Linked DNA regions of Homo sapiens. The protein of the gene in region 1 purifies or fractionates together with the protein of each later gene. This does not show direct contact. Each region holds a gene or a part of one and is shown in the gene's direction. Other genes may lie near its edges.

What was found.
Region 2: the proteins of ELAPOR1 (region 1) and TAF1A purify together in Homo sapiens (affinity purification with mass spectrometry; one large-scale study listed by BioGRID and IntAct). This does not show direct contact.

The regions. Positions count from the first base shown.
Region 1 is NC_000001.11:109,201,115-109,204,934, forward strand, and holds part of ELAPOR1 (endosome/lysosome-associated apoptosis and autophagy regulator 1), read left to right. Parts: intron 1-204; coding exon of another isoform or gene 205-240; exon of another isoform or gene 241-424; intron 425-1,798; coding exon of another isoform or gene 1,799-1,829; coding exon 1,830-1,898; 3' UTR 1,899-3,820. UniProt on the Homo sapiens protein: May protect cells from cell death by inducing cytosolic vacuolization and up-regulating the autophagy pathway. May play a role in apoptosis and cell proliferation through its interaction with HSPA5.
Region 2 is NC_000001.11:222,579,934-222,583,801, reverse strand, and holds part of TAF1A (TATA box-binding protein-associated factor RNA polymerase I subunit A), read left to right. Parts: intron 1-3,868. UniProt on the Homo sapiens protein: Component of the transcription factor SL1/TIF-IB complex, which is involved in the assembly of the PIC (pre-initiation complex) during RNA polymerase I-dependent transcription.

The DNA.
Region 1 (3,820 bases):
GCTCCTTCTCTCTCAACATGCACTCCAGTTAGTGAACTGTTTGGGCCTTTTCACTTCCAGAAGGAGTACTGAACCATCTATGTTGTAAGAATCATCCCCTACTCCTTTTTTTATTTTCACTGAAAAGGGAAAAGGTGATCTCTGGGATCAACTTCTGATAGAAGTCAGGCTCTCCTTTGACCAGTGGGGGGTGCTGTCTTCCAGGTGTCTGGGTCCAGTCCTTTGGGAGCTGAATCATAGTTCAGTCTCAGCTGTTCCCCACTGAGCAATTCTGAGCTGGGAGGGCTGGCTTTGTGTGGGTGGGTGAGTATGAAGCTTATAAATGCAATACAGACAATACTGTCACTGGGTGTGGGGCCAGCAGACAGCATACAAGCAGGTCCTCCAGGGCTATAGTCCTCTGCAGCACAACTCTGCCAGTGCCCATACCTGACTACTGCTCTGAACCAGTTCATCCCAATAGGAGTGGGTGGGGAGGGCGGAAAGAGGGAGGAGGGTATTGGGAGGTGGTGAAGAAAGGACCGTGCTTGGGTGTTTAGATTGCTAAGTCTTGTTTCCTTTGTGCTGACCTGCTAGGGAGACTCCCTTGGCCTCCTTAGACTGCGATTTCTTTTTTTTTAAATGAATGGGAGAACAGTTCACCCTGGGACTCTTGAGTCTATCTGGGACTGCTAGAATTCAGCAAAGGTGCAAAGCAGGGGATTTTTAAGATTTTTGGCTCATGCCTGTAATCCCAGCACTTTGGGAGGCCCAGGCTGGAGGATCTCTTGAGGCTGGGAGTTCAAGATCAGCCTAGACAACATAGGAAGACCCCATCTCTACAAAATAAAAAACAATCAGCTGGGTGTTGTGGAGCATGCCAGTAGTCTCAGCTACTTGGGAGGCTGAGGTGGGAGGATCACTTGAGCCCAGGAGTTGGAGGCTGCACTGAACTATGATTGTGCCATTGCACTCCAGCCTGGGCAACAGAGCGAGACCCTGTCTCTAAAAAACATGTATTTATTTATTTATTTATTGAGACGGAGTGTTGCTCTGTCTCCCAGGCTGGAGTGCAGTGGCATGATCTCAGCTCACTGCAACCTCCACCTCCCAGGTTCAAGTGGTTCTCCTGCCTTAGCCTCCCTAGATGCTGGGATTACAGGTGCTTGCCATCACACCTGGCTAATTTTTTTTTTTTGTATTTTTAGTAGAGACAGGGTTTCACCATGTTGGCCAGGCTGGTCTTGAACTCCTGACCTCAGGTGATCTGCCTGCTTTGGCCTCCCAAAGTGCTGGGATCACAGGTGTGAGCCACTGTGCCTGGCCAAAAACATTTTTTTAAAAGAAAAAAATTTTTTTTTTTTTGAGACAGAGTTTCGCTCTTGTTGCCCAGGCTGGAGTGCAGTGGCATGATCTTGGCTTACTGCAACCTCTGTTCCCGGGTTCAAGCGATTCTCCTTCCTCAGCCTCCCAGGTAGTTGCGATTATAGGCGCCTGCCACCATGCCTGGCTAATTTTTGTATTTTCGGTAGAGACAGGGTCTCACCATGTTGGTCAGGCTGGTCTCGAACTCCTAACCTCAGGTGATCCACCTGCCTTGGCCTCCCAAGTGCTGGGATTACAGGCATGAGCCACCACACCCCGCCTAAAAGAAAAAGATTTTTATTGTTCTCCAACTGACCCTGAAGGGAGCAAGCAGAATAGAGGGTATCTCATTTCTGTGTTTCCACAAAGCCACTGAAACAGGAATTTCATAAGGGTTCCTTCTGTCACCTATTTTCCATTTCTCTCCTTTGTCCCCAAACTTGCCCCTGTGCAGCAGCCAGCTCCTGTCACCATCTCTCTTTCAGAGGACTCCTGATGGATTTGACTCAGTGCCGCTGAAGACATCCTCAGGAGGCCTAGACATGGACCTGTGAGAGGCACTGCCTGCCTCACCTGCCTCCTCACCTTGCATAGCACCTTTGCAAGCCTGCGGCGATTTGGGTGCCAGCATCCTGCAACACCCACTGCTGGAAATCTCTTCATTGTGGCCTTATCAGATGTTTGAATTTCAGATCTTTTTTTATAGAGTACCCAAACCCTCCTTTCTGCTTGCCTCAAACCTGCCAAATATACCCACACTTTGTTTGTAAATTATGCCCTTGCTTGTATCTTGTTTCCCAAAATGGCCCATCCGCCAGAGCCATAGCTTCGTCTGCTCATAATTCTTATAGCTTTGGAATGAAAATATTTCTATCTTCTTAAGTATAGAAACTATTTCCTCTGTCCTCTAACTTAAGGGCAGAAACAGCTGGGAGTTTTCCTCGCATGCCCTCAGCTCATGATCTCTTCAGGAGAGAGGCTGGGTGAGGAGGGTGTCGGGGTTCCCTGGTGGATAATCTTCATAGCAGCCTGGATCCATTTCCCCTGGATAACCAGCTCAAAGGGAGTGAAAATGGTAGTCTGAGGGCAAGGGGAGCAAGGCCTGGGTAAGAAAAGCCTTGAAAAGCATAAAAAGAGGCCGGGCGCGGTGGCTCACGCCTGTAATCCCAGCACTTTGGGAGGCCGAGGCGGGCAGATCATGAGGTCGGGAGATTGAGACCATCCTGGCTAACACGGTGAAACCCCGTCTCTACTAAAAATACAAAAAATTAGCCGGGCGTGGTGGCGGGTGCCTGTAGTCCCAGCTACTCGGGAGGCTGAGGCGGGAGAATAGCGTGAACCTGGAAGGCGGAGCTTGCAGTGAGCCGAGATCGCGCCACTGCACTCCATCCAGCCTGGGTGACAGAGTGAGACTCTGCCTCAAAAAAAAAAAAAAAAAAAAAGAAAAGCACAAAGAGAGGCAACAAGGAATGTTTTTGTTTTTGAGACAGGCTCTCACTCTGTCACCTAGGCTGGAGTGCAGTGGCATAATCACTGTTCAGTGCAGCCTCAAGCTCTTGGGCTCAAGCTATCCTCCCATCTCAACCTCTCAAGTAGCTAGGACTACAAGTGTGCACCACCAGGCTCACTAATTTTTATATTTTTTGTAGACACAGGGTTTCACCATGTTGCCCAGGCTGGTCTCCAACTCCTGGGCTCAAGTGATCTGTCCGCCTCAGCCTCCCAAACTGCTGGGATTACAGGCATAAGCCACTGCACTCAGCCTTTTATTTGTTTTTTAAACCACGTAGCTCATTGCCTTCTCTTAAGTAAATGATAGATATTCTCACTGAAGCCAAAGGAATAAGTTCATCAAGAAAATGCCCAAAGCCCTGGTGGATACATCCTCCCTATCTTTTTTTTAAACCTTCCACTATCACTCTATGACACTGAAAAGAACCAGGTAAGCCCCAAACCCAGATGTTCCAGCCTTATCCTCTGTTGGGTTTACCCACAGACATAGCAAACCCTGTCAGTGAGGAAAATTCCCCATCCTTGAGTGCCCCCGTCCTAGAAGTTTGGGCCATATTATGGAACAGGGGTCTCTTATTTGAAAAGAGCACAAGGAGGCCAAGATTTTAATGGGGCACTTTAGGGGATACAGCCCACAATGGCATGGGCCTGAGGTGGCCGTGATGTCTGCTTCTAAGCTTAACGCATCTGCTCAGGCACAGAATAAACGTCTAGGCTGGCCAAAAAAGGAACTGAATCCCAGGCCCATACGCCAGCACCAGAATCAAACCAGTCTTCAAGGAAGGAAGGCTAGGAGAGTTTAACAAGATTTTCACTGGGCCCAGCATGGTGGCTCACACCTGTAATCCCAAGGCAGAATGGTGGCTTGAGCTCAGGAGTTCAAGACCAGCCTGGGCAACACAGTGAGACCCTGTCTCTAAAAAATTTAAAAATAAACAAGGTGTTCACCAAGCTGGGATACTTC
Region 2 (3,868 bases), about 110 Mb from region 1:
AGTAGCGCGATCTCGGCTCACTGCAATCTCTTACCTCCTGGGTTCAAGTGATTCCCCTGCCTCAGCCTCCTGAGTAGCTGGGACTACAGGCATGTACCACCACGCCCGGCTAATTTTTTGTATTTTGGTAGAGACGGGGTTTCACCAGGTTGGCCAGGACGGTCTCAATCTCTTGACCTCGTGATCCGCCTGCCTCGGCCTCCCAAAGTGCTGGGATTACAGGTGTGAGCCACCATGCCCAGCCTATTCTATCTTAAAATCATCTCTTGACCCAAACTTCCCCCATAGACTATACTTCATTGTTTTACTCTCTTTCAGCAAAACTTCTTGAAAGAGTTGTTCTCTTTTTCCAACTAGAGTGATCCTTTTTTTTTTCGTTTTATCAAGACGTTTTTTATACGCCATCACCCACTTAAATTGTACAATTCAATGTATTTTCATACATTTACAGAGTTGTGCAACCAACCATTACCACACTCTAAATTTAGAACCTTTTTTTTCTCCCATGAAACCAAAACCCTGTACCCACTTGCAGTCCTTCCCCATTCCTCCTCACAGCTGCCGGACACTGGCAGCCACTAATCTATTACTTTCTTTTTCTTTTTTTGTTTTCTTTTGAAACGGAGTCTTGCTCTGTTGCCCAGGCTGGAGTGCAGTGGCATGATCTCTGCTCACTGCAACCTCCAGCTCCTGTGTTCAAGTGATTCTTGTACCTCAGCCTCTTGGGTGGCTGGGATTGCAGGCATGCACCACCACACCTATCTAGTTTTTTGTATTTTTAGTGGAGACTGGGTTTCACTCTGTTGGCCAGGCAGGTCTTGAACTCCTGGCCTCAAGTGATCTGTCCACCTCGGCCTCCCCAAAGTGCTGGTATTGCAAGCGTGAGCCACTATGGCCAGCCTAATCTATTTTCTATTCTGGACATTTCATATAAGTGGTTTTGTACAATATGTGGCCTTTTGTAAATGATTTCTTTCACTTGGCATAATGTTTTCATGGTTTATCCATGTTGTAGCATGTATAAGTACTTCATTACTTTTATTGCCAAATAATCTGTCATATGGAAATACCATGTTTTATTTGTCCATTTATCAGTTGTTAGACACTTAGGTTGTTTTTGCTTTTCGGTTATTGGAAATAATGCTTCTGCGAACATTTGTGTACAGGTTTTTGTGTGGACGTTTGTTTTAATTTCTCCTGGGTCTACACCTGGGAGTGGAATTGCTGGTCATATGGTAACACTATGTTTAGCCTCTTGAGGAACTGCCAGACTGTTTTCCAAAGTGGCCATACCATTTATATTCTCACCAGCAATATCTGAGGCTTCTAATTTCTCTAATCCTTGCCAATATTTTGTTATTGTCCTGTCTTACTGATAATAGTCATCCTTGTGGTTGTGAAGTGGCATCATCCTGGTTATGATTTGCATTTCTCTAATGACTAATGATTCAGAGTGAGCTTTTTAAAACATATCAGATCATGTCACTCCTCTGCTGAAAACACTGTAATAGCTTTCCATTTCATTCAGTAAAAGCCAAAGTCATAATTGCCTATAAATTCCTATGTGATGTGCTCACTTCCTTTCCTTGTTTGACCTCTCTGACTTCATCTCCTGAAACAGGTGGAGCATTCCGAATTCAAAAATGTGAAAACCAGAATGCTTCAAAGCTTTTTCATTACTGACATGAGATAGTGACACCTTTGCTTTCTAATGGTTCAATGTATACAAATTTTGTTTCATGCACAAAATTTTAAGAATATTATATAAAATTACCTTCAGGCTATATGTATAGGTGTATATGAAACATAAGTGAATTTCATGTTTAGCCTTTGGTCCTATCCCCAGTCTCATTATGTATATACAAATATTTAAAAAGCGGAAACAATTTCAAGTCTGAAACATTTCTGGTCCCAACGATTTCAGATAAGGGATACTCAACCTGTATTATCCTGCTTGTTTTTTCTTTTCCATCCTCACTGGTCTCCTTGTTCTTACTTGAATGGGCCAGGCATATTCCTGACTGATTGCCTTTGCCTTAACCAGTTCTTGGAAAGCTCTTTCTTCAGCTATCACTGCAGCTACCCTCCTTCAAGGCCCCTTTTCATTGAGGCCTACTTTGACTATTTAAAATTGCAATTGCCTTACTCCAACTGCAACCTGCACTTTCTGAATGGCACTCCTGATCTCCTTGTCCTGCTGCATTCTTTTCCTCTAACAGTTGACAATTTAATTATATTTCTTGGTTATTGTTTGTCTCTCTACATAGAATGTAAATTTCACAGGGCAGGGTTAAAACAGTGCCTGGCATATACTGCTAAATTTCTTCAGTAAAAGACAGTTTACCCACAAATAACTTGACATGAGTGTCTCATAGGTTTTACTAACACAGTCACCATTGCATCAATTAGTTATCTTCTAGAGCAAAAAAAATAAAAAAGAGAAGCTGAAAAAAAAGTTTAACCATTCATTGAAAATTTAATTTATGGACTTAAGTTACATACTCCTGTAAAACATTGAACATGTTACAGCCTCTTGTTGTCCAGATTTTGTTTTGTAAAATGAAGGAATTGGATCAGTGGTTTTTGAGCACTTCTTTGGCTCTCTTTGGATCACCTAGGGCTTTCATTCAAAGTATAAATTCCTTTACTCCACCCCTGTCTATTGAGTCAGAGTATCTTTTATTTGTATTTTTTTATTTTTTGAGATGGAGTCTCACTCACTTTGTCACCCAGGCTGGAGTGCAGTGGCACGATCTTGGCTCGCTGCAAGCTCCGCCTCCCGCCACGACGCCTGGCTAATTTTTTGTATTTTTAGTAGAGACGGGGTTTCACCGTGTTAGCCAGGATGGTCTCACTCTCCTGACCTCGTGATCCACCCGCCTCGGCCTCCCAAAATCCTGGGATTACAGGTGTGAGCCACCGCGCCTGGCCCAGAATACCTATTTTTAACTGGTGTCCCATGTAATTACTGTGTACACTGGTGGTGAGAATAGCTATCATAATCTCAAAGTTTTCTTTTTTTTTTTTTTCCTGCTTTTCTTCCCCCCCTGCATTTACCCATCCCTGGTGGTAGGTGATCCAAGACCCAGGTTTTCTTTAAGCTCCCAAATACTACAGTGTGATATTCTACAAATGAAATCTTGATATCTCTGAGTTGGGAAGATGAGGATCCTTATATCAAATGATAATATGTGTATCATATATAACTATAGCAGTGATAGTGTGTGTATCCACATATAACCAATATGTATGTTCATAGAAATAATTGATTTACAGTTCAGTTTAATTTACTTTGAAGTTGGTATTATTGATTACTTTAAATTGAGGTTAGCGAAATAGAGATTTGCTCTCATGAAAAAAGAGCTCCAAGTTCTGCCGCCAAAGTTTTGGTGATCTGAGGATAAAATATTTTTTTATTAAGATTTGTCCATAGCTAATCAAAATTCTTAAATTGGCATTCTAAATATAGAATAAATGTAGTCAATAGTTGTAGAATTTGATGGGCTCTCAGGAAATGTGTAGTTTGTTGCCCTCATTTTGCAGATGATGAAGAAGAGGCTGAGACCAATGAAGAAGCCAATATTATTAGAACCCAAATTTTCTGACTTTAATATTCTTCCTTCCATACCAATTAAACATTTTATATTAAATATGTATCTTAACTGTCTACTTTCTTTAAACTACTAAATTAATAATGATGCTATTATACTATCTGATATTTTAATAGAAATTTGAAAGGTTAAAACTATTCTATCACATAAGGAAGTAGTATTAATTTTACATGGCAAAGTAGAGTAAAATGTTGACGGTAGTGGTCTCTGGAAAAGGAATCACAGGTTATTAATGTTGTAATCAGGAAAACAATATC